Regions from separate parts of the Homo sapiens genome. Here all the other regions are reported to be linked to region 2. The links are microRNA targets in miRTarBase. Many come from high-throughput screens and were not tested one by one. Region 2 holds a microRNA gene; each other region holds the end of a gene's coding sequence. Distances are between the middles of the regions.

What was found. Region 2 holds the annotated microRNA hsa-miR-6778-3p (UGCCUCCCUGACAUUCCACAG, at 1,940-1,960, opposite strand). A microRNA usually pairs through its seed, bases 2 to 8, with sites in the 3' UTR of a target mRNA and lowers its output. Matches are read on the target gene's strand: a 7mer-m8 pairs with bases 2 to 8, a 7mer-A1 pairs with bases 2 to 7 and ends in A, and an 8mer does both.
Region 1: the mRNA of TTC31 is a reported target of hsa-miR-6778-3p. Seed matches in the 3' UTR shown: 7mer-A1 at 769-775.
Region 3: the mRNA of CWC25 is a reported target of hsa-miR-6778-3p. Seed matches in the 3' UTR shown: 7mer-m8 at 1,774-1,780 and 7mer-m8 at 1,910-1,916.
Region 4: the mRNA of FBLIM1 is a reported target of hsa-miR-6778-3p. Seed matches in the 3' UTR shown: 7mer-m8 at 1,101-1,107, 7mer-m8 at 1,402-1,408 and 8mer at 1,569-1,576.
Region 5: the mRNA of FAM185A is a reported target of hsa-miR-6778-3p. Seed matches in the 3' UTR shown: 7mer-m8 at 441-447.
Region 6: the mRNA of CLNK is a reported target of hsa-miR-6778-3p. Seed matches in the 3' UTR shown: 7mer-m8 at 3,036-3,042, 7mer-m8 at 2,902-2,908 and 7mer-m8 at 2,870-2,876.
Region 7: the mRNA of ZBED1 is a reported target of hsa-miR-6778-3p. Seed matches in the 3' UTR shown: 7mer-m8 at 473-479 and 7mer-m8 at 1,418-1,424.

What each region holds. Positions count from the first base shown.
Region 1 is chr2:74,492,665-74,496,729 of GRCh38, forward strand. TTC31 (tetratricopeptide repeat domain 31) reads left to right here. Exons shown (of 13, transcript NM_022492.6): 12 at 1-83; 13 at 258-1,895. The coding sequence ends at 554. Among named protein-coding and RNA genes, the nearest start is that of LBX2, 4.9 kb to the right of the region's middle.
Region 2 is chr17:18,338,875-18,342,939 of GRCh38, forward strand. MIR6778 (microRNA 6778) reads right to left here and starts at 2,012; the gene lies at 1,940-2,012. It overlaps SHMT1 (serine hydroxymethyltransferase 1), which reads right to left. Exons shown (of 12, transcript NM_004169.5): 6 at 1,858-1,939; 7 at 1,169-1,381.
Region 3 is chr17:38,798,753-38,802,817 of GRCh38, reverse strand. CWC25 (CWC25 spliceosome associated protein) reads left to right here. Exons shown (of 10, transcript NM_017748.5): 9 at 1-118; 10 at 612-2,377. The coding sequence ends at 726. It overlaps PIP4K2B (phosphatidylinositol-5-phosphate 4-kinase type 2 beta), which reads left to right and starts at 3,262. Exons shown (of 10, transcript NM_003559.5): 1 at 3,262-3,552. The coding sequence starts at 3,394. RefSeq lists an enhancer at 3,267-4,065.
Region 4 is chr1:15,783,992-15,788,056 of GRCh38, forward strand. It overlaps FBLIM1 (filamin binding LIM protein 1), which reads left to right. Exons shown (of 9, transcript NM_017556.4): 9 at 557-2,598. The coding sequence ends at 670. Among named protein-coding and RNA genes, the nearest start is that of UQCRHL, 22 kb to the right of the region's middle. RefSeq lists enhancers at 2,400-3,164, 3,165-3,929.
Region 5 is chr7:102,808,092-102,812,148 of GRCh38, forward strand. FAM185A (family with sequence similarity 185 member A) reads left to right here. Exons shown (of 8, transcript NM_001145268.2): 8 at 199-1,134. The coding sequence ends at 311. It overlaps FBXL13 (F-box and leucine rich repeat protein 13), which reads right to left. Exons shown (of 21, transcript NM_001394494.2): 21 at 3,098-4,057. Among named protein-coding and RNA genes, the nearest start is that of FAM185A, 61 kb to the left of the region's middle.
Region 6 is chr4:10,486,884-10,490,941 of GRCh38, forward strand. CLNK (cytokine dependent hematopoietic cell linker) reads right to left here. Exons shown (of 19, transcript NM_052964.4): 19 at 1-3,730. The coding sequence ends at 3,584. It overlaps LOC105374482 (a long non-coding RNA gene), which reads left to right and starts at 2,230. Exons shown (of 3, transcript XR_925387.4): 1 at 2,230-2,312.
Region 7 is chrY:2,484,842-2,488,906 of GRCh38, reverse strand. It overlaps ZBED1 (zinc finger BED-type containing 1), which reads left to right. Exons shown (of 2, transcript NM_004729.4-2): 2 at 1-2,472. The coding sequence ends at 272. All of the region lies in intron 1 of DHRSX (dehydrogenase/reductase X-linked), which reads left to right. Among named protein-coding and RNA genes, the nearest start is that of DHRSX, 14 kb to the left of the region's middle.

The DNA of each region.
Region 1 (4,065 bases), not on the chromosome of region 2:
CTGTGTTTCAGGAAACTCTGAGAGGTGGGTCCCAGCCTGACGCAGCCCGAGAGCTCCGCTCTTGCCTTCTCCACCTCACACTGGTAAGGGGGCCAGGCACACTGTCATGCTGAGGCGGGTATCAGGGAGAATTGGCTGGGACTGCAATACCAAGCCTCAGGTGGCTAAGGAGGGGGCGGGGAAGGATGGGTGGAATGAGAGGCATGGGCTCTCCTGCTTAAAAGAAGGATCTGGTGCCCTTCTCTCTCCCTTCTCAGCAGGGTCAGCGAGGAGGAATCTGTGCACCACCTCTGTCACCTGGGGCCCTCCAGCCACTTCCCCATGCTGAGCTGGCACCCTCAGGCCTACCTTCCCTCAGGTGCCCTCGAAGCACTGCTTTGAGGTCCCCTGGCCTGTCTCCACTCTTGCATTATCCTTCATGTCACCGAAGCCACCCCAACCAGCCCCTCTCCCAGACTCAGAGTAGAAGGCCCCATCCTCTCAAGCCCCAGGACCCTTCAAAGGGCTGGGACATCCTGGGACTTGGGCTCCAGCATCTGTCTCAGGCCAGATGAGGGGGCACCGGTCCCTCATAGGGCAGGGCCATGTATATATCCCTTGGTGGGGGACATAGTGTGGTGACAGTTCACTGCATATTTTGAGACCTTATTCTCTAGATCCATAGTTAATGATGCCCTGGCAGTCATTCCTCTTGCCATGGGGAAGCTTCTGATGAGAGAAAGGAGCCCCACATCCACTGAAACATCCTTTGGTTCTCAAGCTTCTTCTGGAGGCAGTAAGGAAAAATAAAACCCACCAAGGCTCAAGAAGGGAACTATAGAAAAGTTCAGGTTTTTAGGCTATAGCAGAGACAGTGAGAAAGCATCTGGGCCTTTCTCTTCCTCTTGGTCCAGGGGACCTCATTCACCAACTAGAGCTTGGTGTACAGGAACGGGGTCACAGTGCTGAGGGGGCTTGAGTCCCACCTTTCAGCTTGATGGATGCTCACCTCTTCTCAGCCCCAGCTCGTGCCCTGTTTTTCTAGCCATAGCCCCCAGATTACTCACAGCTCCTCATGCCATTTCCTGTCCAGATTGCTATGTATGACTCTGACCTCTCTTGTCCAGTGGTCTGGTGCTCACCTCCTCTCACTGCTAGAATATTCACCAAGGGTTTGCATTTGGGAAGTCCCTTACCAGCTCCTGCTTAGAGCTGGTAGGGCCATACATGTCCACACTCCCAACTGGTGGCTCTCCCGCTGAATGGGGCCTCAGCAGGTGCCCAAGCTGCTACAACCTTGGCCACTCTGTTTCTCCACCCCAGCACTGGGCATGGTAATTAGCCTTTCCCCATGTTAATTTATTCAGTTTTTTCAAGGGTCAACTGAATTCCCCACTTCCTGGGTAAGAAGCATGATCTCCTTTTAATTTCACGTCTAAGATCCTGGCAGCTTCCCCTAGCTGGTTCCTCTGTAGTCCTGCTGGGACTGTCAGCTCATTTAAATGTGGGTCTGCAGAAGGCTTTAGGTCTCCCCCAACCCCCTTACCTTTCACAGAGGAACCTTTCATCAGGATAAATGATTATTGCTGCCCTGTGGGTCTTGCTCAATACTGTTCATACCTGGAGAGAGAAGGTATTGAAACATCTCCTTTATGTGTGACTTTCCCAAATTTTTAAAAATTGTTTATGGTTTAGGCCCCTTAAATACTGTGTAGCAGGATGAAGTCTACCATTACCAGCTGGGTCACCTTGGATGGGTCTGTCAACATCTAAGCCTCAGTTCCCTCACCTGTAAAAATGAGGGTAGTCCCTACCTCATAAGGGATATTGTGAGGATGGAAAGCGAAAGTGTGAGAAAATACCTCCCAAGTGCCTGGTACATAGTGGGTGCTAAATAAACCACTTTTTGTCTGCAACTGTCCTACATAGTCATGCTTCCCACAATAGGAAGAGAGGAGTGTGGGTGAATTGGTGCTGAAATTCACAAAATCCAGAGTTCTGGGACTGGATTCTCAAAGTGTGCTTTCTAGGCTAGCAGCATCAGCATCATCCAGGAACTTACTAGAAATGCAATTTCTCAGGCTGGGCACGGTGGCTCACGCCTGTAATCTCAGCACTTTGGGAGGCCAAGATGGGTGGATCACCTGAGGTCAGGAGTTTGAGACCAGCCTGACCAACATGGAGAAACGCCTCCTCTGCTAAAAATACAAAATTAGCCAGGTGTGGTGTCACATGCCTGTAATCCCAGCTACTCGGGAGGCTGAGGCAGGAGAATCGCTTGAACCTGGGAGGCGGAGGTTGCGGTGAGCCGAGATTGCGCCATTGCATTCCAGCCTGGGTAACGAGCAAAACTCTCAAAAAAAAAAAAAAAAGAAATGCAATTTCTCAGGCCCCCTGCAGTGACCTACATCAGAAACCATGGGAGCAGGGCCCAGCAATTTGTGTTTCAATAAACCTACCAAGTGATCCTGATACACACTGTTCAAGGGCGGGGCTTAGCGGAGCAGACCTCCATCCAGAGGCCATTTTGGTGGGACAGGTTTGAGTTTTGTTGTCCAAGTCTTCAGTATAAGAGGTGGCAGTGCTAGCTGGGCTAGAATTTGGGAAACCTCAATGGGGAGAGAGGTTATGACTCAGCCAGTTAATTTGACTGGACCCTACCTTCCTAACTAGAAGGATTTGCCCTGAGAGTTCTTTGCTCACCCCTGGTTGGGGAGCAGGATGGGCATAGGTGGTTGTGTTTGTCCAAGGGGTGATTATATTACAGTGGTTCCATAAGAGGCCTGCCCATCTGGCTTTCCTGTTTTTGAGCAGGGACCTGCATGCTTTTGGGATGTCTGTAGGGCTCCTGACCTCTCAAAGGCCACCCACCACTACTCAATGGTATTTTTGCCTTCCAGCTGAGCTGGCTCCTTGTTCTAGCTTCTCAAGTAAATGTTCCCTCCCCAGTACCTTAGCCTGCCCTGGACTTGTAGCTTCTCCAAGAGTCACGTGACTCCTGACACTTTGCCCCATTTTCACCCTCCTAATTAATAGGGGTCTGACCCAACAGCCTGAGTTCTGAGTTCCCAGGACTGGAAAGTAGAGTGACCAACCATCCTGGTTTTCCTGGAACTGAGGGATGTTCTGGAGTGAGGGACTTTCAATGCCAAAACTTGGAAAATGCTGGGCAGATGGGAAAGAGTTGATCACCCTACTGGAAATGTTCCAGAGAGGCAGTATTTAGAAGGGAGTACTGAAGGGGCAATGCAGTTGCAAAGAATTATTTTTTTGCATATGCATAATGGCTGACAGATTCTTAGCTCCACACCAGTGGTCACTGTCTGTTTCCATGTTGCCATTTTTCTTCCAGTTGCCCACATTTGCTAGGTTGTCATTGACTCATGCAATCCTTGATCCCTGGGGCAATCGCAGATTCCTCTTCTGTGACCACCTCCCAGCCCCACCTCAAGTCTGGCCCTGAGTTCTCTCTGCTGTTACCTTTTGCAGTGGCCAGATATATACTCCCTTTTTCAGGTCTCTACCAGTCTCTGATCCAACCTGCGCCCACAGCCAGATTGGCCTACCCTAAACAATGGTCTCTTGTCTCTCTTCTCTAAAACCTCCAGGGACCATGCTCTAAAGTACAATGCCTAAGTCCCTACCTGTGGCCCTTTCTCCTCCCCTTTCTCTGTAAATCCTTTGCTTCTTTCCTTTAGGCTCAGTCACCTTTATAGAGACCAAGAGCATGGGCTCCTGAGTCGGACAAGCAAACAGCTCAGTCCCTGTGCCACCACTTACAAACTGTGACCTGGCCAAGTTTCCTCAGGGTTCTGTAATTCAGTCTCATCCTTAAAATGGAAAGAAAAGTCTCTGTCCTGTTGGGTTATTTTAAGGATTAATACCTGCAAAGCACTTGGAACTGCTTAATAAGTGGTACTGTCTGAAAATGCCAGATTCCCTTCTGCCTTCCAGCCTTGTTCACTTTCCAAGGAATATTCTCTCTTGGGCCCTCCACCTGCAACTAAGGCCCTAGCTGACCCCCGTTGAACCCATGGAACTTCCTTGAAAGTAGGGTTGTCACACTTAGGCAGAGGCAGGAGAAAG
Region 2 (4,065 bases):
CCTAATCTCAAGTACCCAGGGACACAAACACTGCGGAAAGCCGCAGGGTCCTCTGCCTAGGAAAACCAGAGACCCTTGTTCACTTGTTTATCTGCTGACCTTCCCTCCACTATTGTCCTATGACCCTGCCAAATCCCCCTCCACGAGAAACACCCAAGAATGATCAATAAATACTAAAAAAAAAAAAAAAAAAAAAAAAAAAAAAGAGTAATGTAGTCACCAGAGGGCTGGTGTCTCTGCTGATGCAAAGTTGGCGCATCAGGTCTCACCACAGGCTAAATGATGACCTGACCACTAACAGGCTTTCCCAGGTATGGGAATTCGAAAATAAGGGGAGTGCCTAGGGGTAGGTTATGAGGTAATGGAAAGAAAAACCTTCACTAAAATGATATTAATGTTTATACATCCATGTCTTCTAGTTTGACTACTATGAGTCTTTCTCTTTGAGAAACATGATGGATCACTGTAAGTTCACCAGAATAATGCAGCCTTGTGAGGCCTCCCAGTGGCCCCCAGCCAGCCATGCACCCTCCTTTCATTCAAACACCTGCCTCTCGAGTTCAGCAACCGGCGCCATCCTAACACATAGTGGTTGCTGATCCCCCTCCTATGTTCCTAGGACCTGGATGCACAAAAGTGAAGCAGGAGCTGTGGCTGACAGTCTCCTTCTGGGGATTCCTTTCTTTCTTTCTTTTTTTTTTTTTGAGACGGCATCTCGCTCTGTCGCCCAGGCTGGAGTACAGTGGCACAATCTCAGCTCACTGCAAGCTCCACCTCCCAGGCTCACGCCATTCTCCTGCCTTCGCCTCCTGAGTAGCTGGGACTACAGGTGCCCACCACCACACTCGGCTAATTTTTCGTGTTTTTAGTAGAGACGGGGTTTCACCGTGTTAGCCAGGATGGTCTTGATCTCCTGACCTCGTGATCTGCCCGCTTCGGCCTCCCAAAGTGCTGGGATTACAGGCGCGAGCCACCTCACCTGGCCGGGAATCCTTTCTGTAAAGCCTGTCACTGCTCCTTCCTAAGCAGCTCTTTAAGGGACTGGGATCTTAATATTTTCCAAGGATCCCAGGTCAGAGTTTTTCCCAGCTCCCTCAACTGAATCTGAACCCCCACAGGAGAAATGTAAACCATGGTACCCATCTGTACCCAACATTCGGGAGCTCACCTTTCCTGTAGAAGATCATGCCAGCTCGGCAGCCTCGCAGGGTCTTGTGAGTGGTGGTGGTCACCACATGGCAGTGTTCAAATGGGGAGGGCACCACGCCAGCCGCCACCAGCCCGCTGATGTGAGCCATGTCCGCCATGAGATACGCCCCGTTCTCATCTGCAATCTTCCGTAGCCGGGCATATTCCAGGTTTCGGGAGTAGCAGCTGGTTCCTGAGACAGGAAAGGTGACACAGCTGCATCAGAGATGTCCACCGGCCAGCTGAGTTGGCTTCACAGTGGCCTCTAGATGTGCAGATCTGAAAGCCCAGAGATTTCTTCCCTTAAAGTCTCAGAGCAAAAATGGAGAATGCCCTCAAAAAGCACCTCTGTGCTAAAGGCAACCACTCTAACTCTTCAACGTCTTGGTGGTTGAGATGGCCCCAACTACTATTGCCAGCGCAGTCAGGGCCTGACATTTCTAGATGCTTCTCTGAGAACAGTCTCACATCTTAATCTACATAGCACAAAAAGCAGCAAACACACATCTGTATCCTGAAAGAAACTAATATATGTAGACCCCAGAAACTCAGTTATCCAGGGCAGAAACTAGCAGTGGGCTCAACAGGGTGCGAACATCTTTCCATCCTCATTCTGTAAGAGGCACCAGGCTACTGGTGAACAAGGTGACTTTCCGCCCCGCGCATCACCTGCGATGATCAGCTTCGGGTGGAAGAGGCGTGCGTTCTCCTCCAGCTGGTCATAGTTGATGTAGCCAGTATCTGGGTTCACCTGTGGAATGTCAGGGAGGCAGGTTCAGGCTGCTTCCTCCAACCACACCTGCCTCCTGTCCTCCCACTTGAACTGGCTCCACCCACCATGACAAGAGGAATGATGTCCTAGATGAGGACTTGAGGGTGAGACAGGATGGATACTGGTGTGTTCAGCCTGCTCAACCAAGTATGGCTCACAGACCCAGGAGTCCCTGAGGAGTCCCAGGGTTGTAGTGAGCCCTGCTGCTGGGGCACTACCTGCTGAGAAGGAACCAAAAAGCACCTGCAGAATGAAACAAATGTGACGGGACCACACAATGGAAACCAAAATGGTTACCTTCAGGAACAAGACCAAAATGCCTGCTAATACTACTTCTATTCCAAGTATAATGAGGCAAGAAAAAGAAACAAAAGGCATAACGATTAGGAAAGAAGAAATTTAAAAACTGACATTACACACAGACAACACAATATACCTAGAAAATCAAGATGCTAGGGGCCAACTGTTAGAATAAGCAAATTTAGCAAGGTCACTGGATACAACATTGAAAAACAAGAAGTAGGGGCTGGGCGCGGTGGCTCACACCTGTAATCCCAGCACTTTGGGAGGCTGAGACGGGCAGATCATGAGGTCAGGAGATCGAGACCATCCTGGCTAACACGGTGAAACCCCGTCTCTACTAAAAATGCAAAAAATTAGCCAGATATGGTGGCGGGCGCCTGTAATCCCAGCTACTTGGGAGGCTGAGGCAGGAGAATGGCGTGAACCCGGGAGGTGGAGCTTGCAGTGAGCCGAGATTGTGCCACTGCACTCCAGCACTCCAGCCTGGGCAACAGAGCGAGACTCCATCTGAAAAAAAAAAAAAAAAAAAGCCAAAAAGTATATAAAAGCAAGAAAGATAGAAAATGAAATGTAAATAACAAAAACCATAAAAGGAAAATCATACCAAACCTTTACACAAAACATCATTGCGTTGTGTATTTTGTGTCACAAAATGCTTGACAAATTATAGTAATTAAGGCAGCACGCATTCATGGAAGGGCAGAGCATCTGGCTTAACCAGAAGCAGAACCACACACAACACAGGTCATTGGATCCATGCCAGTGGTGACGCTGCAGTGCAGTGGGGAGAGGATGACCTTTTCAATCAATGGCACTAGGTCAACTGGGCATCCATTTGGACAAAAATGTTATCTGGATGCCCGCCTCACCCACACAAATCAATTCCATATTCAGCAATCCCACTTGTGAATCTATATCTTAAGAACTTGAAATCAGTATGTCAAAGAGACATGTGCACTCCCATGTTCACTGCAGCACTATTCACAATAGCCAAGTTATGGAATAAAGCCATGTCCATCAACAGATGAATGGACAAAGGAAATGTGACACATATATATATAAACAATGTAATAATAATCAGTCTGAAAAAAGAAATTCTGTCATTTGCAACAACACCGATGAACTTGGAGGACCTTATGCTAAGTGAAATACGCCAGGCTCAGACAGACAAATACTGCATGATCTCACTTCTTTTTTGAGACAGAGTCTCACTCTGTCACCCAGGCTGGAGTGCGGTGGTGCCATCTCGGCTCATTGCAACCTCTACCTCCCAGGCTCAAGCGATTCTCCCACTCAGCCTGCTGAATAGCTGGGACCACAGGCAGTGCCACCACACCCGGCTAATTCTTATATTTTTGTAGAGATGGGGTTTCACCATGTTGCCCAGGCTGGTCTCGAACTCCTGGACTCAAGTGAGCCTCCTACCTCGACCTCCCAAAGTGCTGAGATTATAGGTGTGAGCCACCGCACCTGGCCATGTGATCTTACTTCTATGTGAAATCTAAAACAATCGAACTGCTGGGCGTGGTGGCTTATGCCTGCAGTTCCAGCACTTTGGGAGGCCGAGGCAGGTGGACCACCTGAGGACAGGAGTTTGAGACCAGCCTGGCCAACATGGTGAAACCCCGTCTCTACTAAACATTCACAAATTAGCCAGGCGTGGTGGCGTATGCCTGTAATCCCAGCTATTCGGGAGGCTGAGGCAGGAGAATCACTTGAACCCAGGAGGCGGAGGTTGCAGTGAGTCAAGATGGTGCCACTGCACTCCAGCCTGGGCGACAAAGTGAGACTCTGTCTCAAAA
Region 3 (4,065 bases), 20 Mb from region 2:
TGGAAAACGCCAAATGGAGGGAGGAGGAGAGACTGAACATCCTCAAGAGGCATGCTAAGGATGAGGAACGGGAGCAGAGGCTAGAGAAGCTGGACTCCCGGGATGGGAAGTTCATCCAGTGAGTGCATCTTCTTCCTGCCAGGGTCTTTCATGGGGAAGGTCTTAAGAGGCAGGCTGGCAGCTGGTTCCCGTTCCAGTGTTTCTGTGTTTGCACATGGAGCCCAGCCTTCAGACCACCTTGGCTACTACTCTTCCTTTCTGACCACACAGTGGGATGTTTTTCATTTGAGGGGAGGAGAAGTGAATTTGGTATTTTCTAAATCATTGAAATTCCTTGACCTTCCTTTTTAATAAGAATTCATGGCCCAGGAAGCCTTTTTCCAATGAGGCTTTGACTTATTTTCCAAAACAGATACATTTTCCCTTATGGACACTGGTTTAAAAACATTTGGTTCCAGGTGGAGTCACTCGAAAGTTATCTATGGGAGCTTAAAAGAGGTTGTGTTTTTACAGCTGCTCTATGGCTAACAACCCATTTCTTCTGAAGCTGCCAGAATAGTTGACTGATTGAAAATGTTTTTGACTTGCATTTGCCTGTCTTCTCTTCCTAGCCGCATGAAGCTGGAGAGTGCATCTACTTCCTCCCTGGAGGATCGGGTGAAGCGGAATATCTACTCTTTACAGAGAACTTCGGTAGCTCTGGAGAAGAACTTTATGAAAAGATGAAAACTGTCCCCTCTCTTATTGGTTTTCCTGCATTTTCCAGGGAAGCTGCTGACCCCTTAATTCTCTTTATAAGAGTTCAAATGACTTCTTTCACAGATGTCAAACCACCAGTGTTCAAAGTGACCCTGCTTCATTGAGTCCTGAAACAGCTCACTTCCTTTGAGAGCTAGTGTGACTTGCTTTGTGGGACACTCAGTAACTTTGGGTTTTGACTCTTTAACGGGTGGGCACTGGACCATCTCGGTGGGAGTGCTTGTGCCACTCTGGAAGGCTGTTCCCTGGGGTTGTGATGTTTATCATGCCACTTCCTTCTTACCTGTGCCAACAGACCTATTTCACTGCCTCAGCGTACACCAGACCCTTCAGAAACCTCTCTGGTGTCACCCAGATAGATTGTGCTTACTGAGACAAATGAACGTTTACTTGATTTAGAAGATAATGTGACAGAATGATGTCAGGTTAGGTCAAAGCCAAGGGAGTGACAGAATCTGGAAAATCAAACAATACAAAAAGCCCTAAATGAACTGTTAACTATTTGATCTTTGGATGTAAAATTGTAATGCGTATATGTACAAATGTACAATTTTTACATGCTTTTAAAAAAGGTTAGCTTTGTGAAAATACCTTGTTTGGTCAATGACTTTACTGGGTAATAGAACCACATTGAACCTTGATGGCAAGTAATACAATAAGGCAGGCCAGCTCGTTTTTCTCTCTGAATCTGGCTGGTTTAGGAGGAGCCTGGGTTTATCGACGAGATCTGGAGTATCTATTCTTTTCCACTGCTTGCAGTCTCCAATGTAGGCAGTGTAAAGGTATAGTAAAATGATTTTAGGAGTCAGAACCAAATTGCCAATATGCTCCATGGCTCCTAAAGGAAAATAAAATGGAAGTTTTTATTTTGCGGCTTCACTTCTTACCGTGTAGTAACCTTACTACAATTACAGATTTTCAGGAGTTGTTTGCTAGTCTCTTTCAGTCAGGTACTAAAAAAAAAACAAAAAACAGGCTGGGCGCGGTGGCTCACACCTGTAATCTCAGCACTTTGGGAGGCTGAGGTGGGCGGATCACGAGGTCAGGAGATCGAGACCATCCTGGCGAACACGGTGAAACCCCGTCTCTACTAAAAAAATACAAAAAATTAGCCGGGCGTGGTGGCGGGCGCCTGTAGTCCCAGCTACTCGGGAGGCTGAGGCAGGAGAATGGCGTGAACCCAGGAGGCGGAGCTTGCAGTGAGCCGAGATTGTGCCACCGCACTCCAGCCTGGGTGACAGAGCGAGATTCCGTCTCAAAAAACAACAGCAACAAAACAAAACCCTCGAGGGGCCACTCTCCTGTCTTTACTCCTTTTCCCTTCTCTATTCTTTCACCAGAAGCCCTCATTTGACCAGTGAACTCCTAGGCCCTCTTGACCCGCACATTAGCTGGGCGATTTCCTTGTTCTGCTAATTCCTAATTCTGCTTAAAATGTATTTGGATTTCTGTTTTTGAACACTTATGATGCCAGGCACTGTAATGCTTGAAACCCGATCTTTCCCTAGAGAATGTAACATACGTTTTTATTCATTTAATCACTTCATTATGCCGGGGTTAATTATGTTTATTTTATAATTGGTAATAAAGGCCACATTTATTTTTGTAACTGTTTAAAGAGCGACCACCTGTGGAGTACCGTGTTTACGAATTTCCATGCAGAAAGAACAACGTTGACCTGTAATTTGTGTCGAATATATGGAGATCCCTCATCTGAGAATTATGTAACAAAGCGTGGGGCAGTTTACTCAAAGATTTTACGAAATGAGCCAGAGTAAGACGATTAGTGGGATAGGTGTCTGAAGGTGCTGGCGGCCTCTGAGCTCTGACCCTTTGCGGGGAGAACAGGCAGCAGGTGGGTGGGCGCGGGGCCCATTCATAAAAACCAGTGTTCCTGGCCTGCTTCTCTCATTGGCCCTGGGGGCAAGGGGCGTGCCCCGCGGGTGGAGCGCGCCCGGGGCCCAGCAGAGTGGGCAGATCCACGCTTAGGTGGAGCGAGGGGGCGTTCCTTGGCTTTCTAGGCTGGACTTTCTCTTCCCCTTGCTGCGTCCCTCCTCTCCCCCGGGGTGGGCATGGTACGTCCCGCCCTCCTCGCATTCCCGTCCCTCCTTCCCTTCCGGAGCGGTGGCATCGCCGCCATCTTGGCATTCGGGTTGCGGGAAAGAGCCAAACCCTGGCGTTGGGGGGCCCGGGCGGGGAGCCCCTCCCGCGGTCCACAGCGACGCCTGCCCAGCCCTCCTCCCCTTCCGGCTCCGGCACGGGGCCCCGAGGCGTTCGGAGGCCAGGCGGGTTTCTGTCAGGCCCGGGGAGGAGGGGCGGGCGGGGCGGCCGCTGCCTCCCCGGGACGGGCCGTACCACGCGGACGGGGAGGACGGGGCCAGGGGACTGCAGGGCGGCTGCACCGCCCGGGGGCGGGGTGCGGAGCGGGCCGGCGGGCTCCCCGGGGCGGGGCGGGAGGGCGGGGCGTGGGGCGGACGGAACCACCGGGGCGGGGTGGGAGGTAACGGGACGGGCGCGACCATGGCGCGGTGAGGGAGCGGGGGTGGGGATCGGTCCGGGGGAGGCCTGAGGCCGCTGGCTTGTGCGCTGTCTCCGCCGCCCCCCTCTTTCGCCGCCGCCGCCGCCGCCCCGGGCATGTCGTCCAACTGCACCAGCACCACGGCGGTGGCGGTGGCGCCGCTCAGCGCCAGCAAGACCAAGACCAAGAAGAAGCATTTCGTGTGCCAGAAAGTGAAGCTATTCCGGGCCAGCGAGCCGATCCTCAGCGTCCTGATGTGGGGGGTGAACCACACGGTAACCAGCTCCTGCGCGCCCCTCTGAGCGCGGCCCCGCGCGCTCCCACGCCCCCTGCAGCCCTGGGCCCTTGCCCCGCAGGCCCTGCCGGTGACGCCTGCCACCCCTCGCCAAGCCACTTGCACGCCCACCCCACCCTTGCACGCCTTTCGGCCCCGTGTGCACTCCCCGCACGCCACGCGAGGCCTGGTGTCTCTGTGGTCTGCCGTCGCCACCTCCCCTTCCCTCCAGCCCTTCTGGCTTCCTGCGTGTGGCGTGCTCGCTTGGGGCAGCCCATGGAGCGCAAAGGCAAGGCCTCAGTGCAGTGGAGTCGCTTTCATCCCTGCTTCTCCTCCTCCCCCCTCATCCTGTTTGTGAGGGTGTATATTCCCCCTTGTTCCTTACAGCCGGCTGCCAGCTCTGTCAAGTAGCAGTGGTCTGCCCAAATAGTCCTCTCTTTCTGATCGTTTGGTTGTTGTGGCTGCTCAAATTCTTCCATCCTCCAGGCCTCCTTACCTTTGAATGTAGAACTCC
Region 4 (4,065 bases), not on the chromosome of region 2:
CAGCCTGACCAACATGGCAAAACCCTGTCTACTAAAAATACAAAAATTAGCTGGGTGTGGTGGCACACGCCTGTAATCCCAGCTACCTGGGAGGCAGGAGAATCGCTTGAACCCGGGAAGCAGAGGTTGCAGTGAGCCAAGATCGTGCCACTGCACTCCAGCCTGGGCGACAGAGCAAGACTGTCTCAAAATAAATAAATGATAAAAACAAATTTTAAAAAATAATAAAGGAGCTATTAAGACTCTTCTAGCCCCAACTTTCCCTGAACCCTCAGGGGACTTCCCCAGGTGTCCTTAGTTCTCCTGACGGTGAATGTCTGTCCTCACCGGCGCCTCCACGTGGATTAAAGCCTCCATGTGTGTCTGTGTCTCATCTTCCCTTATGGAGACCTGGCCCGGGTGTTGGGAGGGCAGCAGTGAGCAGCCTCCTTCCTCCCACTTAGGAAGGGCATCCACTCATGCAGTTGGTTTATTCGGCAGATGCCAAGTGAGTCCCTCCCCTGTGCAGGCAGCGCCCAGGCCCAGGGCGGGTCAGCATGTGTCTTTGTCTCCCCAGGACTGCAGGATCCTCCTGTCTGTCGAGCCCACGGACCAAGGCTGCTACCCCCTGAACAACCATCTCTTCTGCAAGCCATGCCATGTGAAGCGGAGTGCTGCGGGGTGCTGCTGAGAGTGCCCGCTGGGCAGTGAACAGACCACTAGCCCCGGCTGGGGCCCTTCCCTGACTTGGTTTCCCTTCCTAACCTGCTCTTGCACACTTTCCTTCTGAGCCTCCATGGAGACCAGCCTGCAAGCCGGCCCAGCCTGTCCAGGATACAGTGGGGCTGAGCACCCCCAGGCCTTCCACTCCTCTACCCTCTGGGCACCAGAAGGCTCCTGGACCATGAGCTTCACCCCCAGAATTCCCTGCTGACCCTGCCCCACTTCCAGGGAAAAGCTGGGGGAGGTTGGACCCCTCTCACTGACTAGCTGTCTGGTAGGGGTGCTAGGACCAGCCTCGCCTGTGGGGTTGAGCTGTTTGAGGACAAACTCCAAGGTCCCTTAAAAAGTGCCTTTTAGAGGCTGGGCATGGTGGCTCACGCTTGTAATCCCAGCACTTTGGGAGGCCAAGGTGGGTGGATCACCTGAGGTCAGGAGTTCAAGACCAGCCTGGCCAACATGGTGAAACCCTGTCTCTACTAAAAATACAAAAATTAGCCAGGCATGGTAGCAGGTGCCTGTAATCCCAGCTACTGGGGAAAGCTGAGGCAGGAGAATTGCTTCAATCTGGAAGGCAGAGGTTGCAGTGAGATTGCACCATTGCATTCCAGCCTGGGCAACAAGAGGGAAACTCCGTCTCAAAAAAAAAAAAGTGCCTTTTAGGCCGGATGTGGTGGCTCATGCCTGTAATCCCAGCACTTTGGGAGGCCAAGGCAGGCAGATCACTTGAGGTCAGGAGTTTGAGACCAGCCTGGCCAACACGGCAAAACCCCGTTTCTACTAAAAATACAAAAATTAGCTGGGTGTGGTGGCGTGCGCCTGTAATCCCAGCTACTCAGGAGGCTGAGGCAGGAGCATTGCTTGAACCCGGGAGGCAGAGGTTGCAGTGAGCTGAGATGGCACCACTGCACTCCAGCCTGGGAGACACAGCGAGACTCTGTCTCCAAAAAAAAAAGTGCTTTTTGAAAATGTTGAGGTTGAAATGATGGGAACCAACATTCTTTGGATTTAGTGGGGAGCATAATAGCAAACACCCCCTTGGTTCGCACATGTACAGGAATGGGACCCAGTTGGGGCACAGCCATGGACTTCCCCGCCCTGGAATGTGTGGTGCAAAGTGGGGCCAGGGCCCAGACCCAAGAGGAGAGGGTGGTCCGCAGACACCCCGGGATGTCAGCATCCCCCGACCTGCCTTCTGGCGGCACCTCCCGGGTGCTGTGTTGAGTCAGCAGGCATGGGGTGAGAGCCTGGTATATGCTGGGAACAGGGTGCAGGGGCCAAGCGTTCCTCCTTCAGCCTTGACTTGGGCCATGCACCCCCTCTCCCCCAAACACAAACAAGCACTTCTCCAGTATGGTGCCAGGACAGGTGTCCCTTCAGTCCTCTGGTTATGACCTCAAGTCCTACTTGGGCCCTGCAGCCCAGCCTGTGTTGTAACCTCTGCGTCCTCAAGACCACACCTGGAAGATTCTTCTTCCCTTTGAAGGAGAATCATCATTGTTGCTTTATCACTTCTAAGACATTTTGTACGGCACGGACAAGTTAAACAGAATGTGCTTCCCTCCCTGGGGTCTCACACGCTCCCACGAGAATGCCACAGGGGCCGTGCACTGGGCAGGCTTCTCTGTAGAACCCCAGGGGCTTCGGCCCAGACCACAGCGTCTTGCCCTGAGCCTAGAGCAGGGAGTCCCGAACTTCTGCATTCACAGACCACCTCCACAATTGTTATAACCAAAGGCCTCCTGTTCTGTTATTTCACTTAAATCAACATGCTATTTTGTTTTCACTCACTTCTGACTTTAGCCTCGTGCTGAGCCGTGTATCCATGCAGTCATGTTCACGTGCTAGTTACGTTTTTCTTCTTACACATGAAAATAAATGCATAAGTGTTAGAAGCTCTTCCATGTTGTGTGTAGGCTCTCACACAGGTAAACGCTGGCGTTTGGTAGTAGCCCTGGGCATCTGCTCGCTGTGGCGGGAGTGTCCGAAGAGTGCTGGGGCTCAGCTCAGCAGATGGAGGGGCTCATTTCCTGCCTCATGCCCAGCACTGGGGCCGGCCAACTCACTGGGTGTGCTTCTCCTGGACACAGGCCACCACTGATGGGGTTGGCTGCAGGAGCCTCAGTAGGGCTGCCAAATGCTTTAAGAATTAACACTCATGCCGGGCGTGGTGGCCCATGCCTGTGATCCCAGCACTTTGGGAAGCTGAGGTGGGCGGGTCACTTGAGGCCAGGAGTTTCAGACCAGCCTGGCCAACATGGTGAAACACCGCCTCTACTAAAAATACAAAAATTAGCTGGGCATGGTGGTGCTTGCCTCTAGGCCCAGCTACTCGTGAGGCTGAGGTAGGAGAATCTCGAACCTGGGAGGCAGAGGTTGCAGTGAGCTGAGATCACAACACCGCACTCCAGCCTGGGTGATAGACTGATTCAAAAAAATAAGAATCAACAGTCAGGCTGGGTGCAGTGCCAGCACTTTGGGAGGCCGAGGTGGGTGGATGGCTTGAGCTCAGGAGTTTGAGACCAGCCGTGTCAACATGGCGAAACCCCGTCTCTATGAAAAATGAGCTGGGCACGGTGGTGTGCACCTATAGTCCCAGCTACCTGGGAGGCTGAGGTAAGAGGATCACCTGAGCCCAGGAGGTCGAGGCTGCAGTGAGCCGTGATTGTGTCACTGCGCTCCAGCCTGGGTGACAGAATGATACCCTGTCTCAAAAATAAAAAAAAAACACCCCCAGGGCGTGCTCCCTGCACATAACTAGGCTGCTCTCCCTTTTCAAGCTTGCACACTGACCCCTGGGCTCACTTGGTGAGCACAGGCCCAGAAAGAGTTGGCCTGAAAGAGCACTGGCTTGGTGACAGGCCACCCAGATCTCAGACCTATCTCTGTACTCAATAGCGTGGACAAGTTAGTAACCCTCAGCCTTGATGTTCTCATCTGGAGCAGTTTAAAACATTTTATTTATTGGCTGAGCGCGATGGCTCACACCTGTAATCCCAGCACTTTGGGAGGCCGAGGCAGGCAGATCACAAGGTCAGGAGTTCAAGACCAGCCTGGTCAACATGGTGAAACCCCATCTCTACTAAAAATACAAAAATTAGCCAGGCGATGTGGCAGGCGCCTGTTATCCCAGCTACTTGGGAGGCTGAGATAGGAGAATCGGTTGAACCTGGGCGGCAGAGCCTGCAGTGAGCTGAGATTGCGCCACTGCACTCCAGCCTAGGTGATAGAGTAAGACTCCATCTCAAAAAAAAAAAAAAAAAAAAAAAAAAAATATATATATATATATATATATATAAAATGTATTATAAAAATAGAGGCCGGGCGTGGTGGCTCATGCCTGTAATTTTAACACTTTGGGAGGCC
Region 5 (4,057 bases), not on the chromosome of region 2:
CCCTCTCAGGGTTGTTCTGAGAAAATGAATGGAGGGGAGCAAGCCCAGATAACCTCTTTGCAACTCCTGCCCAGTTCAGACTATCTTTACCAAGATTCTTGATGTTCTAAGGTGTTTTTCAGTTTCAGAGATGTGTTGCTAGGATCTATGTGGTCAATTAATGCTCTTGATATAATTTTATGCAATTTTGTGTTTTAGGACTCATGAATCAAGCAAGCAAACGTGAAAAATGGATTAAGGCTGATGCCCCAAAAGGCACTGTAAGTTTTAGAAGGCAAAGTTGGTTTCAGTCCCTGAAACTGCAGGACTAAAACTGATTTGAGTTGGATTTATGATTTTTAACAATGATTCGCAGATCTGTGACTACAAAAATGTAAATCCCACCATTCATATAAAGGTTGAAAACAACAAATTGAGAATGAATACTGGTGAACTGTTTTGGGAGGCTTTTTCAAAATTTGTGCTTTGCTATTGTATTCATTTTCTACTGCTCTGTAACAAATTACCACAAATTTAGCAGCATAAAATAATACTCATTTACAGCTATGTCTAGGTTCTCCGCTCAGGGAATCACAAGGCTAGAAATCAAGATTTTGGCCAGGCTGAGTTCTCATCTGGAGTCTCTGGGAAGAAATCTACTTCCAACTTCATTCAGATTATTGGGAAAATCCAGTTCCTTGTGACTGGATGACTGAGGTCTCCATTTTCTTGCTGGCTGTCAGCCAGCAATCACTCTAAGCTTCTAGAGGCCACCCACATGCCTTCTCATGTTGCCCCTCCATCTTCAAGCCAGCAGTGATGCGCTGAGTTCTTCTCATGCTTTGAATATCTGACTTCTTCTGCAGCCAGCTGGAAGAATATATACTTTTAAAGGGCTCACTTGATTAGGTCAGGCCCACCCAGGATAACCTTTGTTTTGCCATATAATGTAACATTCATAGGAGTGATGGCCCATCACATTCAGTTTTCACTCCCACTCAAGGAAAGGAGATTATACAAAGGCATCCATCATGTGGGGACAATTAGCTTAGAATTCTTTATAATGTAGCTCTCACATGACAGGTTTTCTACTTAGTACCTTTTATGGCATCAATGTAAATTTAAGCTGTAAATAAAAAACAAATATGTGAAGCAGTTGCTACTGATTCTTAATATCTTTTGTGTAACTTAAGATATAGCTAATTAGGAAAAAAGAAACAGCTATTTTATAGCCTGATGTATGAAGATAGATTTTTATAAAGGTATACTGTATAAAGATATTTTATGAATTCCATTTCTTTCAAACATCTCTATTCCTGGAACATTTAAATTATATAATACTGGCCAGGCACAGTGGCTCATGACTGTAATCCCAGCAGTTTGGAGGCCAAGGTGGATGGATCACTTGAGGTCAGGAGTTTGAGACCAGCCTGGCTAACATGGTAAAACCCCATCTCTACAAGAAATACAAAAAAAAGAAAATTAGCTGGGTATGGTGGCTCATCCCTGTAATCCCAGCTATTTGGGAGCCTGAGGCAGGAGAATCGCTTGAACCTGGGAGGCAGAGGTTGCAGTAAGCCGAGATCACACCACTTTACTCCAGCCTGGACAACAGAGTGAAACTCCGTCTCAAAAAAATTAATTAAAATAAACAAATAAGTTATATAATACTATAACTATACTATAAGACCAGACCTATCTCTTGGTGATGTAGTTTGGATATCTGTCCCCCAAAATCTCATGATGAAATGTAATCCCCAGTGTTGGAGGTGGGGCCTGATTGGATCATGTGGGCAGATTTCTCATTAATTGTTACCACCACCTTCTTGGTTCTGTCCTCATGATAGTGAGTTCTTGCAAGATCTGACTGTTTAAAAGTGTGGGTATCTTCCCCGTCTCTCTCTTGCTCCTGCTCTTGCCATGTGATGTGCCTGCTCCCACTTTGCCTTCTGCCATGAGTAAAAGCTCCCTAAGGCCTCCCCAGAAGCCAAGCAGAGAGGCCCGTGCGATGCTTTCACAGCCTGCAGAACCAATTAAACCTCGTGAGTCAATTAAACCTCTTTTCTTTAGAAATCACCCAGCTTCAGGTATTCCTTTATAGCAAAACAAGAATGGCCTAAATCGCTTGGATTATATTTTTTATGATTAAGATAAGTCAGTTCTTTTTTTGTTTGTTTTTTGAGACAGGGTCTTGCTCTGCCACTCAGGCTGGAGTGCAGTGGCACAATCTTGGCTCACCGCAACCTCTGCCTCCGAGGTTCAAGCGATTCCCATGCCTCAGCCACCACAGTAGCTAGCATTACAGGTGCACGCCACCATGCCCAGCTAAGTTTTGTATTTTTACTAGAGATGGGTTTCACCATGTTGGCCAGGCTGGTCTTGAACTCCTGGCCTCATGTGATCTGCCTGCCTCAGCCTCCCAAAGTGCTGGGATTACAGGTGTGAGCCACTGCACCGGGCCAGGAGAAGTCCATTCTTAAACACTAATTTTTAATAAACCTTTCCAAATATTATTATTTATGATGATCTTTTTCTTTTTTTCAGACGAGGTCTCACTCTGTTGCCCAGGCTGGAGTGCAGTGGCATGATCATAGCTCATTGAAGCCTTAAACTCCTGGCCTCAGGCATCCTCCTGCCTCAGCCTCCTGAGTTGCTGGGATTACAGGCAGGTGCCACCATGCTCTAATTTTTAAATTTTTTATAGAGATGGGTTTTACTATGTTCATCAGGTCTCGAACTCCTGGCCTCCAGTTGTCCTTCTGCCTTGGCCTCCCAAAGTGCTGTGATTATAGGCATGAACCACTGTGCCCAGCCTCCTTTTCATTAATTTTCCATTTCTTTAGAGTTCTGTTTTTAACTTCTTATTTATGAAACAAAAGTCAGCTTTGTAGGATATCTCAGAGTCTCCTTTTAGTTCACCCTTCATGAAATCAGAATGTATACAAGTCTGAAAGATACTCACACATTGGTATATTTGGTATGGTTGTGGTGTGTTATACTATTAAGTAGAGGAAACTGTGTAGCAGTGAGGCAGTTTTGATAATCTTTTTTCACCCTCATGCAATTACATAAACATTTTCATGACTAAAAATAAATTAGCTAACCACAGCCAGAAAAGTCATAAGCATAACAGCAGTCAACTATATTTAAAGCTACTAATGGAATTGTACATATTTGGATCACATTGTTAAGTCCCAGACAAAAAGAAAAAGCTGCCATAATTTACTCTCTTGGACACAGACCTATGAATATGAAATACGTAAGGGCTAAAGACCTAACTAATATCTTTGATATTTTGAGTAGTTTGCATCGAAAACTTAAAAGATTTCTCTACCTGTATCCCTATTCTTGGTCTCCTTTCATAGCTCACTTTTTCTACTCCTTTTCTTCATTTATGTAGCTGTAAAATTTGTCTCCCCAGAATGAATGAATGTGTCTTCTGTTCTTGTTTAAGAAAGGATGTTACTCAAAGAGCTTTGGAGCAAGCTCTGAATGTAAAGCAACCTGCTAGGTTTCTGGAGAACATAACAGGGTGTGTTTCTTACCGGGGTCTAACCAGTGCAGGTGTCATTCCTTTAGAAAGCAATTGCCTCTTTTATAAGTTCCACCAGTTGTGTGCATGAAGCACTTAGGGATCAGATTTTTGAAAACATCTTTAATGCAGCTGCCAGAAATTTCCAAATTTAGGTTAAAATCATACTCTTATGTCATCTTATGTCTCTTGGCTATGGTCTAAAACTTCCCACTCAAATGATTCTGTTGCCTGTGTGCCCACTCCTAGGAACCTTTCCACAGCTAAGTAATATTACCTTATTTCAAAAACTTTGCAAGTCAACCTCAGTGGGGGAGAATTACTAAAAGCATTTAGCTAATACAAGGTAGCCTATAATAATACTTTGTACAATCTTTTTAAAACTTTTCAAAATAACGATGCTTTATCTTAAGTTTTTAATCCTTATTTGAAACTTGTGGGATACAAAAAGAGAATTAACTCCACGTGAGAGATAAGTAATTGAGGAAATAGAAAGGTTAAAAGGCTGATCTGATATTGCTGACAAGGCTTGTTTGCGGCAGTCAG
Region 6 (4,058 bases), not on the chromosome of region 2:
TGTTTGTATATTTATTTGTCATCTATCTCTCTTATTCACTGCTCTATTTTCAACATCTACAATAGTGCTTAGTAATGAATACACATGCAGTACACAAAGGTGCTAACACAATATATGACTAATGATGAGGGCTATGCACATTTATACAGAATGAGAATTATTTAGTCCAAAAAATATCTGGAAAGCATAAATGCTGTAATTGGATAAAGCTAAAATTCTATTACTCTATTGAAATCAGATATCAAGTGATACTTTTAAACTAAACGTGAGGTAATGGTTGAAAAGGGATTAAAACACTGGAATTTGGGCATGCCAAATCCAAATCATTGAATATTCAATTACAGATCTAATAAAGCAGGTAGACCATGAATAGGATAATTGCATATGGAGACCTTGGTTCCAGTCGCGACTATGTCACTGTGAGATTTTGGCCAATGAGGTACAATTTCCTCAATTATAAAATGCATTAGAAATAGCTGCCCTCTCTTCTTTACAGAAGTGTTGTAAGAAACAAATACAATCGAATTTATATACTCTTATTATTTAATCATCCATTACAAGCAAAATGTAAATGTGATTGTCCTTACTACAATCAACACTGAAAACAGTGAATTCAGGATGTTGCTGTGGCAGGCCAGAGGTGGGTCTCTTGAGTCTCCATTGAAATAACTTGCTGGCCAGCAAGTTAGTGGACAGCGTCCAGCTGCGCCTTCTGGATTGGCCACAGCATTTGCAGGTCTTTTTTTTTTGTTGTTTTTCTTTTTCCCAGGATAGCCCCAGACAATGACTTAACAGGATGGGGCACTAAGACCCAGACATTACTGCCCAGCATAACACTGTCTCCTCTCTGGGCAAACTTTGCTTTGGGCCTCACTATGAGCTGGCCAAAACTCTCCCAGAGCTGTGTCTGAATCTCATGCTTTTTCTCCTCACTCCCCACACCTCCCCTCTTCCCTCTCACAGGTGGGAGCCTGAAAGCCCACCCCATACCCATACTTCTGTTTCTTCTCCCTTTTATCTTTCTCAAACATTAACCTCCAATCAGTGTTTGCACTTCTAACTTTGTCCTGGTGTCTGAGTTCTAGAAAACCCGACACCCAATCCCTCAAACCCCAATCACCAGAAGCAGCCCATGTCAGTATTTTCCATTTTATATTTTTTACAGAAGTGTTCAAATACACAAAAATATTGTAAGCTTTTTATTGCAAGATGTTTAATTTCTTTTTTTTCTTCCTTTTCCCCTCATTCTTGCTGTCATCTTAAGGATGCTGAATTTCTACTTCTTTTTTCTTCTTGGAATTATATGTTGTATTTGTGAACAAGAGACGATAAAATATTATTTCAAACGTACACCTTATCAAATGCTAACCCCCACTTGACATTCACCTATTTTATCAACAGCAATGGTTGAGAGGACTCATAGACATTTCTTGAGAACATAGCATTGAATGGCATGGCCTCAATGAATCAGTGAGTTGGAGGTATCAGTAATCTCCCAATAGCTTTTTAGGGTGAGGGTCAGATTCCTTCTTAATGTGAGCCTGGAGCTCTTCTGTAAAGTCCTTGTTTCCATACTGTCCCTGGCTTGTTGAATTCCAGTAGAGAATGACCAGCAACCATACAGCTTTTAGCTTTGACCGGACCAGTGAGTTCTTTCGTATCCAAGCTCCAATTTAAACACTCTTGTCTCTTGGTTCTATGTAATCCTCTGCAGGCATACTCTACGATAGGCTCAGCTGGGTCTCAAAAGTTCCAGCTTTACAAATAGCTTCTTCATTAAATGCTCCTGATGTAACTTATAGGCATCACTTCACATTGACCTTGTGAAAGGAGAACACCTGAGCAGGTATTTGGATAGTGGGTAGATGCTAAGAGCTTTTCCCAGAGAGCTCATTGTCTGCTGTCTTACAAAAGAGATAATCCTGCACATTGTTTTTATTGTTTTCATTTGCTTCTATTGCCTTTTAATTATTTTTGGTTTTCTTTCTGCATCAATGCTACAATTACATAAATACTCTATGAATTTCCTTTGTAAGCTTTGGTAGCATTTGACATCATGATATACTGTTATTTTCGACAGACAGTATGTTTTTTAAAAAAGCTTATTCCCACTAGAAGAGTTTATTTATTTTAAGGTGGTAAATCTGTATTTTCAAATTGTTTCTATCTTTCTCTCTCTCTCTCTCTTTTTTTTTAAATTAGCTTTTCAACTTGATTGTAAAATGTCACAGCGCAGAGAATGTACCTGGGAAGATGAGCTTGCATGGAGCCAGGCAAAGCAGATTACAATCTGGGCTCTCTTCTCATATTGAGTAAGATCAATAGCTACTTCGAGCCTCTGTTTCCTCATCTTTATTGTAAAACAATAATAAAATTAAATCCTCTTAACCTCTACAGGGAATAATATCATGGCCTGTGCAACGTTACTGCAAGAATTAGCACTAATTTGAGGACAGTTTTTCTCTGTCTTTGAATGGAAGTCCATAATTGGAATTGTTAATACAATTTTTAGTTTCCCTCAGACATATGCTTGCCTGAAGGCTAGTGTAGGATATAATCTGAGCTCTGTACTATGAATGTGTTAATTCCATTTGACTTAAAGCTACTTGAAGCAGATGATGCTGGAGGCTGGTCCCATGACCGTTTCACACCCTAGTCAGAGGATTTTCAGTTTCTGTCTTCAAGGTGACATTCACAATTGCTGGTTTTCCATACCACATTTCTTCCCTATACTTGAATTTCTAGGATTACAATAAAAGAGAGCTAATATTCACCAACCCAACACCTTTTTTTTTTTTTGAGACGGAGTCTCTCTGTCCCCAGGCTGGATTGGAGTGCAGTGGCGCGATTTCGGCTCACTGCAAGCTCCGCCTCCCGGGTTCACACCATTCTCCTGCCTCAGCCTCCCGAGTAGCTGGGACTACAGGCACCCACCACCACGCCCAGCTGATTTTTTGTATTTTTAGTAGACATGGGGTTTCACCATGTTAGCCAGGATGGTCTTGATCTCCTGACCTCGTGATCTGTCCACCTCAGCCTCCCAAAGTGCTGGGATTACAGGCATGAGGCACCGCACCCAGCCCAGCATCTTTAGTGTAAGAAATCATCCACACATTGTATATATGTAAGGCCCAACAACTGACATAAAGGCAGCGCAGTGTCCTGTAAAGAGCACAGATTTGGGAATTTCCCATAGACTTGTCTTGCACTGACTGCAAACATTTAAGCAACAGCTTCTGGTGCCCTTTGCTGCTCGCCTGTATCATGAGCATAATGGCTATGTTTATAGTATTTTTTGTTGTTGTTTTTTAGAAGATACTTTTAAAACCCTAGTTTTTATTTTTATTTATTTTCCAGTGGCCAGTTACTAGAATGTTTTTATTTTTTGCATGTTATAAATATTTTCTCTGTGGTTTGAACTTTCAAAACCGTGAGTGATTTTCCACTCTCTGTTATAGAGTGTTTTTCTTTTCTCCAAAGTTAAAAAAGTTGTCCCTTGAAGGCACAGAAAATAAACTTTTGAAATCAATGAAAACAATGGAAGCGCTGAATCCAGTAAACCAAAGATAACACAAAGACCAGGCTACAGAGGCAAGAGGTGTCTGGTGAGAGGGAGTGGCTGAGTGAGGTGACACTGTTTCCTGTGGACCCCAGTTTTATCTTTCCCATCAATTAGTATAATGGGAAAATTCTTGTAGTGTTCGATGATGTCTTCTACTGAATCAAACTTCTGAAACACAGAAAAGAAAGTTAATGACTTTTAAAATATCTTTTGTGTCTGTAGGTTAAAGTATAGCCAAGGTGCTTCATTTTGCATGGGGAAGAGGTGAACCAATTTAACAATGTTTGTATGGTAAAGGTGTTTCAGGAAGTGGTTTTTGGTTTGTTTGTTTTTTTCTGAGACGTTGTTTTGCTCTGTCACCCAGGCTGGAATGCAGTGCCACAATCTCGGCTCACTGCAACCTCCGCCTCCCGTGTTCAAGTGATTCTCCTGTCTCAGCCTCCCAAGTAGCTGGGATTACAAGCATGCGCCACCACGCCCAGCTAATTTTTGTATT
Region 7 (4,065 bases), not on the chromosome of region 2:
TGCAGAAGTACTGGTGCGTGACGGCCACGCGCGTCGCCCCTGAGCGTCTCTTCGGATCCGCCGCCAACGTGGTCAGCGCCAAGAGGAACCGGCTGGCTCCCGCGCACGTGGACGAGCAGGTGTTTCTGTATGAGAACGCCCGGAGTGGGGCAGAGGCGGAACCCGAGGACCAGGACGAGGGGGAGTGGGGCCTGGACCAGGAGCAGGTGTTCTCCTTGGGGGATGGCGTCAGCGGCGGTTTCTTTGGCATTAGGGACAGCAGCTTCCTGTAGCGAGGAAGCGTGTTGTCTTACAAGTCATCCCCGCAGCAGCCCATTGGATGCTTTGCTGTAAATACTTACCCGGTCAGCTTGGTTTTGAACCTCAGAGACCATCCACTGTCTTTGACACCTAGAAGGTGGAAAAAGGAAAGAGATTTGAGAAGTGAGAGAGGGTCGGGGGCGGTGGCTCCTGTCTATAATCGCAGCACTTTGGGAGGCCGAGGTGGGCAGATCAGCTGAGGTCAGGAGATCGAGACCAGCCTGGCCAACATGGCGAAACCCCGTCTCTACTAAAAATACAAAAATTAGCCAGGACTGATGGCATGTGCCTGTAATCCCAGCTTCTGGAGGCTGAGGCCAGAGAATCGCTTGAACCTGGGAGGTGGAGGTTGCAGTAAGCTGAGATCGCTGCACTCCAGCCTGGGCGACAAGAGCGAGACTCTCTCAAAAAGAAAAAAGAAGACACAAGAGAGGTGGCTTTGAGTGGGTTTCCTTTCCTCCCCTATTCCCGGGGCCCGGACGACTTCTGCTTGGGAACTGCCAACGCTTCTGCTTGGGAATTGCGTGCAGCAGAGCCTAGAGGAGCTGTTCCTTCCTTCACAGATACTTAAGACCTCCACCATGTCTGATTCGAGTTCTCCCTGGGAGGGTTTAGAAGAAACGCAGGAACATTCTGGGTGGCGTCGAAGGAGCCTTTCCCGATCATCATGTGTGACTTCTGCGAGGTCCAGATCACTGAATTCATGTTTACATTCTCGTGCAAGCAGGGACCTCTTGCTTCTGAGAAATGGGGAAGAGACCTTTTAGCCAAAATGCCCTTCTTAAAAAGAGAGACCTTTTTTTTTAATGTTCGGTTAAAAATGTGACAGATGAGTACAAAAATGCAGACACTTAACAAAAAGCAAACAGAAAAAAAAGTGTGGAATGTGTTGTATTTTCGACAGGTTGCTGCCAGAGAGCCTGCTTCCTGCTGCCTGCCGAAATTTCACTTTGCGGAGTTGGTCCTTAAAACTGGGCGGTGGCCGGGCGTGGTGGCTCACGCTGAGGTCAGGAGTTCGAGACCAGCCTGGCCAACCAACATGGTGAAACCTCGTGTCTACTAAAAATACAAGAAACTAGCCAGATGCGGTGGCACCCGCCTGTAATCCCAGCTACTCGGGAGGCTGAGGCGGAAGATTCGCTTGAGCCCAGGAGGTGGAGGTTGCAGTGAGCCAAGACTACGCCACTGCACTCCAGCCTGGAGGCCAGAGTGAGACTCCGTCTCAAAACAAAACAAAAGTGGGTGGCTCACGGGTCCGGAGGTTATGTCTTCGGTGTCTCAGCCCTAAAAGTCCAGTTCCCCCGTGCGGCCAGCTTTTCCACATAAGGTGTTTTTGATTTGATTACCGGAAAGGACTCTTGATTCTTCTCTTTTAAACTGAATACCATAGGGGAAATGAATTTTAAAATATTGCCCCCGGAGGGGTTTTCCGTGGCTGGATTCCTGCGAGTTGCTTTCAGTCATTCAGGGAAACAGAAAGACGTTTTCCAACATGTAGAACTGCTTTTTAACTGGAGGAAAAATACTTCAGGAGGCTTAGCATATTGCTTGGATTCTACGTGCAGCGGGTTCTCTGCCTCCGTGAAGACAAGCTGGGCTGGGGAGAACGGTGTCTAGGAGGGATGACCCCACTCAGCTCCAGGCAGTGTTCTGCCGAGACCCCAAGAACTCGGGGTGTCAGAGGGCAAAGGAACTACCTGCCTTTCACGGCTGCTGACTTCTCAGGGCTGCAAGCAGCACAGAATGTTATCCTTACGTCCTGAGCCGGTTTAAGTCTGTGGAAAAGGAAGCACGGGAGAAATCCACGTAACCTTTGCTTTCTTTTTAAGGGAAGCGGTTCCGCCGTGAACTTGGAACCCTCAGCTCCGGGTGTTCTCGGCAGAAGGGCAGCTGGAAGGGACACAGTGGGGCAGGCTTTGGGGTTGCTCCCTGTTCTGCCCCGAGGCCGGGGACGCAGGGCAGCCCACGCCTCCGTGGGCTCCATTCTGTAGCATTGCCAGCGTTCTCTTCACGTCTCTAACAATCCTTCGCTTTTCCTCACTCACGTGGAAATGTGAACTGTCCCGGCTCTGTCTTCATTTTTATTTTTAAGCCATCGTTCCCCTCCTGAACGGTTGCCCCTTATTTAATGCTGTAAAGTTGGACTGTTGTTCAATAAACCAGAGCAATGCATTAGCTCCTCATTCATTTGTCTGCCGCGTGTCCGTCTGGACTGCAGTTTGTCTGAACCCCTTGATCCTGGGAGTGGAGGGAGGTTTATCATTATTATTATTTTTATTTTTGTTGTGGTCCTTGTTGAAAGCAACTTTTTCCAGGGCACCCACGGTCAGTTCTGTGCTCCTCTTTCTTGTCTGTAAATCCTCAAGTTATGATGTACTTTCGGGTGTTTTGGCATCAAAATTTCTGAGTGAATAAAGCCGGCAGCTGGTGAAAGTGTTCCCCGGGAGCAGAGATTTTTGCCGGTTCCTTCACTTAGTGGATAGTTGTATAAACGGAGGCCCCATGGACGAGGCAGCCTGGATGGATCCGGATGGCATCAGCGCCTTCCCTCTCCCCCCAGCCTCCTTATCACCCCTCTCTTCCTGTCTTCCTCACCTCCTCTCACATGGTCTCTTCCTTCCCTCCTCCTTCCGTCCAACCCTCCCTCTCTTCTTCAGCCAACAAATCCTTCCTTTCTTCCTTCTTTCCTTCCTTCCTTCCCTCCCATCCTTGTCTCTTCTTCTCTCCCTTCCTTCCCTCCCTTCCCTTCTTTCTTTCTCTCCCTTCCTTCCTTCTCTCCCTTCCTTCCTTCTCTCCCTTCCTTCCTTCTCTCCCTTCTCTCCCTTTTCTCCCTTCCTTCCTTCTCTCCCTTCCTTCCCTCCCTTCTCTCCCTTTTCTCCCTTCCTTCTCTCCGTTCCCTCCCTCCCCTCCCTCTCTGCCTCCCTTTCCTCCCCTCCCTCCTTCCCCCATCCCTCCCTCCCTCCTTCCCTCTCCTCCCTCCCTCCTTCCTTCCCTCTGTCCCTCCCTGTCTCCCTCCCTTCCTCCTTCCTTCCTTTCCTCCCTCCCTCTGTCCCTCCCTCCCTTTTCTCCCTCCCTCCCTTCCTCTTTCGTTTTCCTTCCATCCCTTTTTCCTTCCTCCCTCCCTCTTTTCCTCCCTCCTGAGAAAACAATGGCCCCCAAGAAACACAGGAAGGCCGGGATGTGCACCTCTGCCCAGACTTGCCCTTTCCAAGTGCTGTTGGTTGACTGCCTGTCCTTGGGCATCATTAAAATGCCGAAATTTCTCTTTCTTGCACGTTTTGGGTTGAAAGGGGTTCATTTTCAGTCCTCATAACTAAGCATTTGCATCGTGATGTTCATTTAAGTGGGACATGTTTACACGTTTTTCCCATTAGGAGTAATTCTAGTCCTTGAGGGTTTCTTACAGAGACATTTCCCTAACCCCGACGGTTCTCATCCCAGCCTGTGTGGCACTCCTTCCGCACAGTGGTGGGATTTTTCGGTTCGGTTTTGTTTTCACGCTTGCATCTGGCTGCACAGCCCTAACTCTGAGCTGGTTGTTTTTGTTTCCCCCCCACTTTGCAGAATTGCCTGCTTCGAACTGTTTTCCCAGCAGGCCTCTGAAGGGTGAGGAAAACAGCTTGGGGAAAGTGAGAAAAAGGTTTCGGATGTTTTAGTAAAGAGGCAGCTGGTGGGAAGGAGCCGGTTGGGCTGTTTCTGGGGTGCCGAAATCTCGGTGGTGACGTTCATTTGCTCGTGAGTGCAGAGGAGGCCCAGAGACCGGGT